3 separate regions of the Homo sapiens genome follow, and regions 2 and 3 are each linked to region 1. Evidence: fine-mapped expression QTL. A gene starts in region 1. Each other region holds a variant in brackets. All regions are shown on one strand. Distances are between the middles of the regions.

Region 1 (4,241 bases):
GTATTTGGTGATAAATTCACTCAAAACAAAGTTATAACCATATAGGACATACTTGCCAATGACTCTGAGTTTATTTTTCACAATCATCTTTCAGCCAAGAGAAAAAATTAATTATCACTCCACCCAATCATTACCCTCCATTCTTCTGTGTATATGCTTTGGCATAAAGGGTTGGCTTGCCTGCACTCTCGTTGGGGATGTTTATTATTCTTTCTTTTACTCCAAGCCTCCTACCAACAAGCAGAAAAAAAACCTCCACACACAATGGGGGAAGGAGAGAGCTTCCCACAGCTGAGTCAGCTGTGAGCACTGGAAAAGCGAAGCTAGGTGAAGTTCCTTCAGCCCAGCAGCCCCCAACCCTATCCCTATTTTACTCCCTGGGGGCTGGGCCCCTTGTGGCAGGGACTAAGTAGTCAGCTCTTTGTTCCACACTCAAGCAGAATTCAGTGGCAGGTGAAGCCATCCAATAATCCTGAACTTAGACTGACCTTGACCTAAACCATAGCTCAGTGTGATAAAGAAAATAATTCACTGGGGCAAAGGTGCTTTCCTTAAAAAATAACTTGCCATGGCGAATTTTTTACTGCCCCCCACACTTATCTGTAGCAACCAGAGACCAGGACAAAATTATTATTCAAGCTGCTGACCTTAATCCCCAATTGTTTAGGAGGTGCTGGGGCAGTTCCTTGGTCAGCTTGGATGTCACTTTGCCCCAGACAGGGGTGCTGAATATGTCTAACAGTACAGCAGATTGTCCCTTAAGAACAATCATCTGCCAAGTAAGGGTAATTGCTGAGCAAGAGGGTCCCTGGCACAGCTACGGATCACGTCTTATAAGGTCAAAACCACTAAAGGAAAAGGCCCAAAGTTCTGGTTGTATCCACCACTTTCCACTTCTACTATCTCCACTCCCCAAGTGTGGGAAACCCATTTGCCTCAGAGATCTGGGCTGGGAGTCACCCTGCAATCTCCCTTCCCCTGGTGGTGTGGAAAGGCTTAAAGGCCAGACACACCAGCTCAGAGAAACAGCTCATCGAAGCCTTGCACTTACTTCTCATAGCGCTGATAAGCGCGTTGCCGTCTTTGATTACGTCTTTGATGAATTTGTTGGTCCTCTCCAGTTCCTGCTCATAACACTTGAGCCTCTCGCGGAAATCGGGGCTGTCCAGGTAGCAGTCGCTGAACTCCAGCGGGGGATGACCCATGGTTCTGATGGCCGGGAGTAGGGGGAAAGGGGAAAGACACAAAGACCGAGAGCATCAATGGCACAGTAGAGGAAGTAGAGGGGACGGACTGAGCGCGCGACCCGCTTAAGGAAGCTCATAGCCTCCGTCCCTTTGGAGGACAGGTACCTGTTTCAGTGAGACTCCTGAGGAGCGCTGGCTGGTCCGGACAGAGAACAGGCGCCCCGGCGATGGCTTCAGGGCCAGGGAGAGCTAACTATCGCAGTCGGATCCCGGCAGGGTGCTGCCTAGCAAGCAGCATGTCCCTTAGGCATCGCCTTCCCAGATAAGCAGCAAAAACCGCAGCCCGACTTGCCTCCGGAGACGGGCCGGATCCTTCCTGAGCAATTGCAAACGTGACACTTGGGCCCGCCCAAGGTGTAGGCGAGGTTAGAGCTGGAGCTGGGAACAGCCTCTCTACAGGCTCCTCGCTCCGGAGCGAGCGGAAGACTTCCTTGGCCGAACTCCGCGGGCAACCCGGATTGCACTGTCCCCTCCCCTTTCTTAAAGCCAACGCCTGCGCCCCGCCCCAGCGAAGCCCGAGGACCAAACCGGAGCGCTCTGGCTCCTTCCTCAACTGTTTTCCTTGTACCTTAGAGTTTCCTGACCAGGGCCCGCTGGCTGCTAAGACTTCTTCCTGGTGCAAGGGAGCCGGCCGGCCGGCCGTCCTTTTAGGCGCCGGAAGGGTTAAGCCAGGGCGGCAATGAAACGTAGCCTCGCTCCATAGACACTGCAGCGGGAAGAGGAGGGCGAGAGCGCGACGCACAATAGCCGCGGTAGCCCAGCGCTTCCCTACGGAAACTGGGGAGCAGTCAGCGCCCTAGGACTCCAGCTGGAAAGCGTGGCGGCCTGGGAGATGTAGTCTTTCCGTTTGCACTCCCCAAGACTCCTCCCTGCAGTCTCCCCACCACCCCGCCTGGGAGGCTGCTCTCCCAGAACGGCATTCCCAGCCTGCCGCAGGCTCCTGCGCAGGGACCGGCCCCAAGGGGCAGGTGCGCGGCGCTGGACTCTGCGGGGGAAGTTTCCGAAACTAGAGCAAGAACCCGCAAGACTAGATTGCAGGAAGCCATCTCTCAATTCCCATGATTCGGCTGGGTTGTGTATTCTTTTGCCTTCCCCTCTTTCCAGCCTCCTTCGGACCTACCAACTTCTTTTCCTCTTTCTTTTCCCATGTCTCCTGCTCTAAGTGCTCTAATTCCCTTGGGCCTTCGACCTGAAGGGTTGATTCCTACTCTAGGGTCTCCGTGAAGCTCAGTGCCCCCTGCCAAAGAAAGGGAGGCCATAATTCAGAGTTAATATTTTCCTGAATAGGACCTCAGAGCATGGCTTTTGTGGCAGACGCCGATAATGCATATGATTTTCCATGTGTAAGTGGAAAGTCTAAGAATAGGATGTTATAAATTGTCTTGCAGCTTACCTTAAAGGCAGCTGTCTTGAGACTAAGGGTAGGTAGAGGCTCGAAAAACTAAAAAATAGTTTGTGCGTGGGCAAAGAGATCCCTTTAATTCTGCAGAAGTGTTTACATTAGATTGCCCTGTGAAGAAAGCCAGAACGGAAGGGGGTTGTAAATAGAATAATAGTGGCTGACCCACCTGAATTAGGGTCCTGTTGCTGCTGTGACAAATTACCACAAACTTGATGTCCTAAATCAGCATAAAGTTATAATCTACAGTTCCAGAAGGCAGAAATCAGAAATGGGCCTCACTGGGATCAAATCAAGATGTTAGAAGGGTTGTGTTCATTTTCAGATAGTCTAGGGGTAGAATCTGGTTCCTTACCTTTTCCGGCTCAAGCTGCTCACATCCTTTGGCTCATAGCTCCCTTCCTCCGTCTTTAAAGCTAGCACTGGCCAGTCAAGTCTTTCTCATGCTACATCACTGTGATTCTCATGCCTCCCCTTAAGGACCCTTATGATTACACTGGGTCCACAGGATAATCTCCCCCATCACATCATCCTTAATCACATCTGCAAATTTCATTTTGCCACATAAGATAACGTAGCCACAGGTTTCAGGACATGGACATCTGTGAAGGAGGAAACATTATTCTACCCACCACACAACCTATCGCCCATCTCACTAATCTTCAAAACAACCCTATGAGGATGGTTTTATTATTATACCCATTTAAAGATGGAGAAGCTGGGTCAAAGAGAGTTTAAGTGACTTGCCGAAGGACAAACAGCTAGTTAAATGGCAGCACTTGAACTTGAGCCCAGCCTGGCTGGCTCTAGAGGTAGTGCTCTTGACCACTACACTATATAGCAGAATGGCAATGAGAAAACGCCCTCTGAAAATAAATAAGTAGCCACATCTCAGGGGAAAGTTTTGTTTCTTACTCTTTTTATCTTTAAGGTTAATTTATGGGAAAATGTCCAAAATGAGCTTTAAATGCACCATGGGTTGAAAAATGCAGGTACTAAGGGAAGGTACCCATTCAATGGGTATATGGTCTTTCACACTAGTAAGTTTCCTTTTAGCATTCATTCACTCGTTTAACAAGCATTTTTTGAACACCTGCTATATACTTTTATTTATAAAGCCTATACATATATTTTCATCACTATAAAAATTGCCATTGACATTTTTTAAAATTTTATTTATTTATGTATTTTTTTGTTTGAGAAAGGGTCTCACCCTGTTGCCCAGGCTAAAGTGCAATCAATAGCTCAATCACGGCTCCCTGCAGCCTCGACCTCCCTGGGCTCAGGTGATCCTCCCACCTCAGCCTCCTCCTGAGTAGCTAGGACTACAGGCACATGCCACCACACCTGGCCAATTTTTGTATTTTTTTGTAGAGACGGGGTTTCACCATGTTGGCTAGGCTAGTCTCAAACTCCTGGGCTAGAGGGATCCACCCACTGCAGCCCCCACCAAAGTGCTGGGATTACAGGTGTGAGCCACCATGCCCAGCTGCTGTTGACATTATTGATGTTAGATTCAATCATACTCATCTGAGTTCCTATACTCAAAGTGTTTTACAGTCATCTGTGTTATCCTTTATCTAGACAATGAAACT
Region 2 (4,241 bases), 350 kb before region 1:
ATGTTGCCTTCTGGATATCCCAGAGGTATCTCAAATTCAACATTTCTAGAATTAAACACTTTCGTCCCTTAAAATTTTTTATTATCTAAAACAATGCCAATGTCCAAGCCACAAATCTGGACATTATTATCTTAAAATCCTCCCCCTCTCTCACATCCCACATCCATTTAGTCACCAAGTTCTATCAATTATACTTCCTTAATGTCTCTCTAATCTGTCCCCTCTGCTCACTACCACTGACTTGGTTGAGTCTCATCATGTCTCTCTATGATTATAATAGTCTCCTAATTGTTCCTTCTGTCTCCAGCCACTCCTGTCTTTAATCTGTCTACCCAAGTGCAGGTAGAGTGATCTTTCTCAACTCTAATCTAATTGTGTTACTCCACTGCTTAAAATGTTTCAATGACTCTTCACTGTCTTCGGGACAAAGGCCAAATTCCTTAGTTAGCACACAAAGTACTCAATAATCTGGCCACATCCTGAAATCTCCAGCCCCATCTTCCCCATCTTCCACTATTCCCCTACATTCACCCTCCACTATAGCCATGCTGAATTATTAAAGTTCTTTAGTCTCTTAGTTATTTAGTTCTTTGGTTATTTTATGGAACTTAATTTCTCTGGTGTCTCATTCCTGTATGTATCCAGAGTGATCTATACACAGAACACTTTCACTCTTACCCTTTATGGAAGAGACTGCTAATTGCTTACTGGTACCCACCTTCCCCTTCTTACTTTTACTAATGGAAGTCACTGAATGGTAGCTGGGCACCCATGCCTACCTTTCTTAGTCTCCCTTGCAGCTAGGTAAGGACATGTGATTAAGTTTTAGATAACAGAATACAAGTAGAAATAATGCATGAAAGCCTCTGGGTCATGCTTTTATGAAGAAGCTGTCTGTATTACATTCTGTCTTTTTTTCCCTTTCTCTCTGGCTAGTAAATGGGGACAAATGGAATAGCTATCTAGGATCAAGAAACTGAAGCCAAGTGGTGAGGATGGCAGAAGTATGTCATTGATCTTGGACTATTCACTGCTAGACTTTTATGTGAGAGAAAAATGAACTCCTCTCCATCATATTTAAGCCAAATAATTTGCAGTCCTCTGTTATAGGAGGACTTTTCTTACAGAAGGTTAATCAATTAATCTACTCCTCTGATTTTCAGGACTCACATCATGCATTACCCACTGTATGAAGACTTCTCTGATTCCCAATAGAGAGGTAAGTTCCCTTTCCATGGGCTCCCACAGCATCCAATGCACATCTTCACCACAGTCTTTATTACACTGCATCCTGAGTGTTAGTTGGTTCCAGATACCCCCAAGTCCCATAACTTTTCTGACAGCAGAGATTTTTTTTCGTGATTCCTCTCTAGAGACTAGGGCTGAGTAGGGCACGAGGCAAGATAAAGCAGCTCAATGACAGTTTTTAAAATGAATGGATGAATTTTGGCTACCAGGCCCTTTAGAGCATATTAAATAATAGAACTTTTTTTTTCATTTATTCCTTCACCAACTATAATTGGGAAGAGAGAGTACAAAATAGAGGTGAGAGAGTACAAAGTAGAGGTCAAAGAGTCAGGACAGAGTCAGAGTCAGTTGTGTTGGAGCTTTGCTATGTAACCAGGGGCAAGAAACTTAAACTATATGAATCTCAAACTTGAAGCTCAGTTTGCATTTTGAAAATGTCAGCTGCAAAATGAGAATAGTGATACCATCTACCTCATAGGGTTGTTGTGATGGTTGAATGAGGTAACATACAGACATACCTAGGAGATAGTGTGGATTTGGTTCCAGACCACCAGAATAAAATATGTATCACAATAAACTGAGCCACACAATTTTTTCTGGTTTCATGGTGCTTATACTATACTGTAGTCTAGTAAGTGTGCAATAGCATGATTCCTAAAAATAAGGTATACATCCCTTCATTAAAAATAATTTATTGCTAAAAAATGCTGACAATCACCAGAGCCTTTGGCAAATCATACCCTTTTTTGCTGGTGGAGGGTCTTGCTTCTATGTTGATGACTGCTGATTGATCAGGATGGTGCTTACTGAAGGCTGGAGTGGCTATGGCAATTTCTTAAAAGAAGACAACAATGAAGTTAGCTGCATCAATTGACTCTTCCTTTCACAAAAAAAAATTTCTCTGTAGCATGCCATGCTGTTTGATAGCATTTTACCCTCAGAACTTCTTTCAAAATTGGAGTCACTCCTCTCAAACCCGGCCACTGCTTTAGTAAACCAAGTTTATGCAATATTCTAAATCCTTGGTTATCATTTCCACAATGTTCACAGCATCTTCACCAGGAGTAGATTCCACCTCAAGAAACCATTTTCTTTGCTCATCCATAAAAAGTAACTTCTCATCCATTGAACTTTTATCCT[C/G]ATATGGCAGCAATTCAGTCACGTCTTCAGGCTCCACTTCTAATTCTAGTTCTCTTGCTATTTCTACCACATCTACAGTTACTTCCTCCACTGAAGGGTTAAGCTCCTCAAAGTCAGCCATGAAGGTTGTAATTAACTTTTTCAAACCTCTGTTATTTTGTTGATATTTTGACCTCCTCTCATAAATTATTAATATTCTTAATGACATCTAGATTGGTGAATGCTTTCCAGAAGGTTTTAAATTTACTTTGCCCAGATTCATCAGAGGAATCACTATCTATGGGATCTAAATCCTGATGAAATCTACTTCTTAAATAATAAGACTGGAAAGTTACTTTATTCCTTGATCCATGGGCTGCAGAATGGATGTTGTATTAGTAGGCATGGAAACAACATTCATTAATCTCCTTGCACATCTCCATCAGAGCTGCTGGGTGATTACTACATTGTTAATGGGCAGTGATATTTTGAAAGAGAGCTTTTCTTTTGAGCAGTAGGTCTCAAGAGTGGGCTTAAAATATTCAGTAAAACATTCTGTAGACAGATGTGTTGTCACTTAGGCTTTGTTGTTCCACATATGGAGCATGGGCAGAGTAGATTTTGCATAATTCTTAAGGGCCCTAGGATTTACAGAATGGTCAATGAGCCTTGGCTTCACCAGCTGCATTAGTCCTTAATGAAAAGAGTCAGCCTGTCCTGTGAAACTTTGAACCCAGGCATTGACTTCTTTGCAGCTATGAAAGTCCTACATGGCATCTTCTTCCAACAGAAGGCTATTTCATGTACACTGAAAATGTGTTTTTTAGTGTTGCCACCTTCATCAATGATCTTAGCTGCATTTTCTGGATAACTTGGTACAGCTTTTACATCAGCACTTGTCGCTTCACCTTGCACTTTTATGTCATGGAACTGGTTTATTTCCTTAAACATCATGAACCAACCTCTGCTAGTTTCTTTTTTTTTTTTTTTTTTTTTTTTTTTTTGAGACGGAGTCTCGCTCTGTCGCCCAGGCCGGACTGCGGACTGCAGTGGCGCAATCTCGGCTCACTGCAAGCTCCGCTTCCCGGGTTCACGCCATTCTCCTGCCTCAGCCTCCCGAGTAGCTGGGACTACAGGCGCCCGCCACTGCGCCCGGCTAATTTTTTGTATTTTTAGTAGAGACGGGGTTTCACCTTGTTAGCCAGGATGGTCTCGATCTCCTGACCTCATGATCCACCCGCCTCGGCCTCCCAAAGTGCTGGGATTACAGGCGTGAGCCACCGCGCCCGGCCTCAACCTCTGCTAGTTTCAAACTTTTCTTTTGCAGCTTCCTTACTTCCTCAGCCTTCACAGATTGAAGAGTTACAACCTTCCTGTGGATTAGGCTTTGGCTTAAGGGAATGTTGTGGCTGGTTTGATTTTCTATCCAGACCACTAAAAGTTTCTCCCTATGAGCAATAAGGCTATTTTGGTTTCTTATCATTTGTGTGTTCACTGGAGTAGCACTTTTAATTTTCTTCAAGAATTTTTCCTTTGTATTTACAACTTGGCTAACTGTTTGGCACAAGAGGCCTAGCTTTCAGCCTATCTCAGCTTTCAACATGCCTTCCTAACTAAGCTTAATCATTTCTAGCTTTTGAGTTAACATGAGAGACATGCAACTCCTTCTTTCACTTGCATACTTAGAGGCCTTTGTCGGGTTTTTAATTGGCCTAATTCCAATATTGTTGTGTCTCAGGGAATAGGGAAGCATGAGAGGGAGAGGGATGAGGAATGGCTGATCGGCGGAGCAGTCAGAACATACAACATTTACTTATTAAGTTTGCTATCTTGTCTGGGTGTAGTTCATGGAGCCGCAAAACAATTACATAGTA
Region 3 (4,241 bases), 35 kb before region 1:
GTGCTGGAACACCCTCCACCCTCCAGCACAGTTCACCCAGATTTCTTTAATCTTCTCACAGCCTGTAATGGAAGTTCTATTTAGATAAAATCATAGCAGCTGTTAACAACTTTTTCCTTTGGTTGTTTTTTCCATTTTTCTTTCTAACTTCTAATTGGCTATAAACCAGGGACCACAGTGGCTGGCTAAAGGATTCCCAGAGTTACAAAACAGGCCTTCTCAGTGCCCCAGGCTTCTTATCGGAGAACATCATTAACTTTTTCAATTGCAACTCTGCAAGTTTCCCAGGTAGCTGAATCCATTTCCATACTGCAGCCTTATCACATCCTGAATCCTGACAGCCTGTTTCTGTTTGTCTTTTATGTTCTTTTTTTTTTTTTTTTTGGTCTGTTATGTTAGGTTGACACTTTTTTCTTTTATTTATTTATTTATTTTTTTTTTTTTTTTGAAACAGAGTCTCACTCTGTTGCCCCAGTTGGAGTGCAGTGGCACAATCTCGGCTCACTGCAACCTCCACCTCCCAGGTTCAAGTGATTCTCCTGCCTCAGCCTCCGAAGTAGCTGGGATTACAGGCACCCACCACCACGCCCAGCTAATTTTTGTATTTTTAGTAGGGACAGGGTTTCACCACGTTGGCCAGGTTGATCTCGAACCCCTGACCGCAAGTGATCCACCCACCTCGGCCTCCCAAAGTGCTGGGATTATAGGCATGAGCCACTGTGCCTGGCCACAGGTTAACCCTTTCTTAATTCCCTGGGCTTTTTTCCCTTATTGCCACAGTCTTCCTTTTATCACTGGCAGGTGTAACCCTGTTCTTCCTTACTTTTCTTTTTCTCAGATTAGGCTCCTCCCATCGTCCCTTAACAAAAGGATGATTTAATGATCTTGCTTGGGGTGTGGGGACTGCCAGGAGAGACTGAGAGCCAGCCCTGGGGCCAGCTGGTTCCTGATCAGAGCATCTGTAGAAAACCTGCCAGAGTGGGGGCACAAAATGCTGCAAAGAAACAGAAGCTGTCTTTGATCTTATATTGTCCCTTGCCTTTTATTTTTCTCCACCTCCATTTATTAGCTCACTATTTGCTAGTATTTTGGGGAGACACTTTAATACTTGCTCATGACTACATGTGCACTTTTCTCAATTTATGCCCTATCCAATGGTAGAAAGGCCCACCTAAATGATCCCCTTATTCCACAGTGCCCCAATGCTTGCATGTTTTGGTTTTTCATCTGCTGCTCCATTAATTGTTTTCAGCTGCAACTATAATAGCCCAGTGGAATAGTTTCCAAAGATTTCAATCCAACATATTTTTCACTTGAAATTTTTAAACCCACGAAATGTTCTCCAACCCCTTCTATGTATTCCACTGCTGTGGTGATGATGCATTTAATGGTGGAAAAGAAACCACACAGAAACACAGGGCTATCAGGTTTATAAAGAAGTCACTTGCTCTGGTCCGCCTGTCTTGAATTAGGATCACATTTACACAATATCAGACAGCTAAGGCCCTAACTTAAAGGCAATGTGCTACCTTAGACTGGGAATCAGGGAGGGTCCTAAATATATACAAAATCTGGCCAGGCCCAGTGACTCACGCCTGTAATCCCAGCACTTTGGGAGGCCGTGGTGGGCGGATCACCTGAGGTCAGGAGTTCGAGACCAGCCTGGCCAATATGACGAAACCCTGTCTCTACTAAAACTACAAAAATTAGCCAGGCGTAGTGGTGGGCGCCTGTAATCCAAGCTACTCAGGAGGCTGAGGCACGGGAATCACTTGAACCCAGGAGGCAGAGTTTGCAGTGAGCTGAGATTGTGCCACTGCACTCCAGCCTAGGTGACAGTGCAAGACTCTGTCTCAAAACAAAAAAAGTGTGTGTGTGTGTGTGTGTGTGTGTGTGTGTGTGTATAGTAATAATATGCCAAACCTTCTCCACAAAACTGGTCCTCTCCAGAATTAACCATTTCAAAGAATGGCCCCACCATCTATTTACAAACCAGTGAGCCATCTTTGATATCTCCATCTCCCCAACCTTCCATATCCAATTTATCACCAAGTCCGATTTATGTAAACTCCTAAATATCCCATTAATACAGTTCTCTCCATCTCCACCCTCATCCAAGCCATCAACTTCTTCCACCTATACCACTGCAACTACCACCTAACCGGTCTCCCTTCACCCATTCTTGCCTGTCTTGAATTCATTCTCCACTGTGCAGCCAGAGTAAGCTCAAAATATAAAGCACATCACTTGAATCTTCCTATTTAAAACCATCTGAGGGGCTGGACAGTAGCTCATGCCTGTAATCCCAGCACTTTGGGAGGCTGAGGTGGGCGGATCACTTGAGGTCAGGAGTTCAAGACCAGCCTGGCCAACATGGCGAAACCCCGTCTCTACTAAAATTACAAAATAAATAAATAAATAAAAATTAGCTGGGCGTGGTGGCACATGCCTGTAATCGCAGCTACTCAGGAGGCTGAGACAGGAGAAATGCTTGAACCCAGGAGGTAGAGGTTGCAGTGAGCCGAGATCGTGCCACTGCACCCCAGCCTGGGC[G/A]ACAAAGCAAGACTCTGTCTCAAAATAAATAAATAAAAATAAATAAATAAATAAATAAATAAAACCCTCTGAGGGGTTCACGCTATATCTCCCTAGCATGACCTATAGGCCCTGAGTGATTGGGCAACTACTCCATACCTTCCAACTACATTGGTCTTGTTTTAGTTTCTTTTTTTTTCTTTCTTTTTTTTTTTTTAAGACAGAGTTTCGCTCTCATTGCCTAGGCTGGAGCACAATGGCACTATCTTGGCTCAATGCAACCTCTGCCTCCCGGGTCCAAGCAATTCTCCCGCCTCAGCCTTCTGAGTAGCTGGGATTACAGGCTCTGATTGGTTGCTTTCTGTAACCAATAGGATGTTTGCAGAGGAGTGTGAGCTTTGTAACTTCACTTCAGCCTCTGGTCGACTGCTTTCTGCAACCAATCAGACTGACTCTGGGCTACCACTTCATTTACATGAGGTGAGCATGAAATGGCCAATGGGAAACTTCTAGGGGGTATTTGAATCCAAGAAGATTCTGTATCTGGGCCCTTGAGCCACTGCTTGGGTCTGCTTCCACACTGTGGAGTATATTTTTGTTTTCAATAAATCCCTGTTTCGTTCTTTTGTTGCTTCATTCTTTCTTTGCTTTGCAGGGCGTTTTGTCCAATTCTTTGTCCAAAACGCCAAGAACCTGGACAACTTGCAGTCACAACCCTCTACCGGTGATATTATGAGCCAGGTACTGTGCTAATCAGCATGAGATATTGTATTAGTCTGTTCTCACACTGCTATAAAAAAAATGCCTGAGACTGAGTAATGTATAAAGAAAACAGGTTTAATTGGCTCACAGTTCTGCAGGCTGTACAGGAAGCATAGTGGCTTCTGCTTCTAAGGAGGCCTCAGGAAACTTACAATCATGGGGAAAAGCGAAGGGGAAGCAGGCACGTCTTTCTTCTCTCTTTTTTTTCTTTTTTCTTTTTTCTTTTTTTTTTGAGATGGAGTCTCGCTCTGTTGCCCAGGCTGGAGTGCTGTGGCATGATCTCGGCTCACTGCAACCTCCGACTCCTGGGCTCAAGCAATTCTCCTGCCTCAGTCCCCTGAGTGGCTGGGATTACAGGCGTGCACCACCATGCCTGGCTGATTTTTCTATTTTTAGTAAAGACAGGGTTTCGCCATGTTGGCCAGGCTGGTCTCGAACTCCCAACCTCAGATGATTCACCCGCCTCTGCCTCCTAAAGTGCTGGTATTACAAGTGTGAGCCACTGCACCTGGCCAGGCATGTCTTTTGTTGTTGTTATTTTTTCTTTCAGGCACATCCTACATGGCCAGAGCAGGGGCAAGAAGAGGTGGGGAAGTGCCACACACTTTTAAAAAATCAGCTCTCACAAGAGCTCACTATCATGACGACAGCACCAAGGAGGATGGTGTTAAACCACAAGAAACTGCCACCATGATCCTTTCACTTCCCACCAGGCACCACCTTCAACATTGGGGATTACAATTCAACATGGGATTTGGGTGAGGACACAAATCCAAACCATATTAGATATACAGTAATAAATCAGAACCAATCCCTCTCCAAAGAAGGAAGGGAGATATTCACAATACAGCTAACTTAGTAATGAGACAGACAGCTACAAGTACAGTGTAAACAACATGTAAGTGAACATCAAGGAACAAAGGGTTAATTCTAACTGAGAAGATATC

Which allele goes with the higher level. Alleles are on the strand shown, and positions count from the first base shown. SD is a standard deviation of normalised expression in the study named. Not every link is listed here.
With allele C in place of G in region 2, the expression in tibial artery of the gene that starts at base 1,680 in region 1 is lower (small effect, 0.20 SD a copy in GTEx).

The links. PIP is the estimated chance that this variant, and not a neighbour inherited with it, causes the effect. A credible set is the group of variants that fine-mapping cannot tell apart.
Region 2: its variant is the best candidate, but not a certain one, in a credible set for the expression of OPHN1 in tibial artery (GTEx, PIP 0.62).
Region 3: its variant is the best candidate, but not a certain one, in a credible set for the expression of OPHN1 in T cells (TOPMed, PIP 0.68).

Annotation. Positions count from the first base shown.
Region 1 is chrX:68,431,816-68,436,056 of GRCh38, forward strand. It overlaps OPHN1 (oligophrenin 1), which reads right to left and starts at 1,680. Exons shown (of 25, transcript NM_002547.3): 1 at 1,353-1,680; 2 at 1,052-1,209. The coding sequence starts at 1,205.
Region 2 is chrX:68,079,713-68,083,953 of GRCh38, forward strand. All of the region lies in intron 19 of OPHN1 (oligophrenin 1), which reads right to left. Among named protein-coding and RNA genes, the nearest start is that of NXTAR, 300 kb to the left of the region's middle. The variant C/G (reference allele first, on the strand shown) is at 2,389.
Region 3 is chrX:68,397,094-68,401,334 of GRCh38, forward strand. All of the region lies in intron 2 of OPHN1 (oligophrenin 1), which reads right to left. Among named protein-coding and RNA genes, the nearest start is that of OPHN1, 34 kb to the right of the region's middle. The variant G/A (reference allele first, on the strand shown) is at 2,554.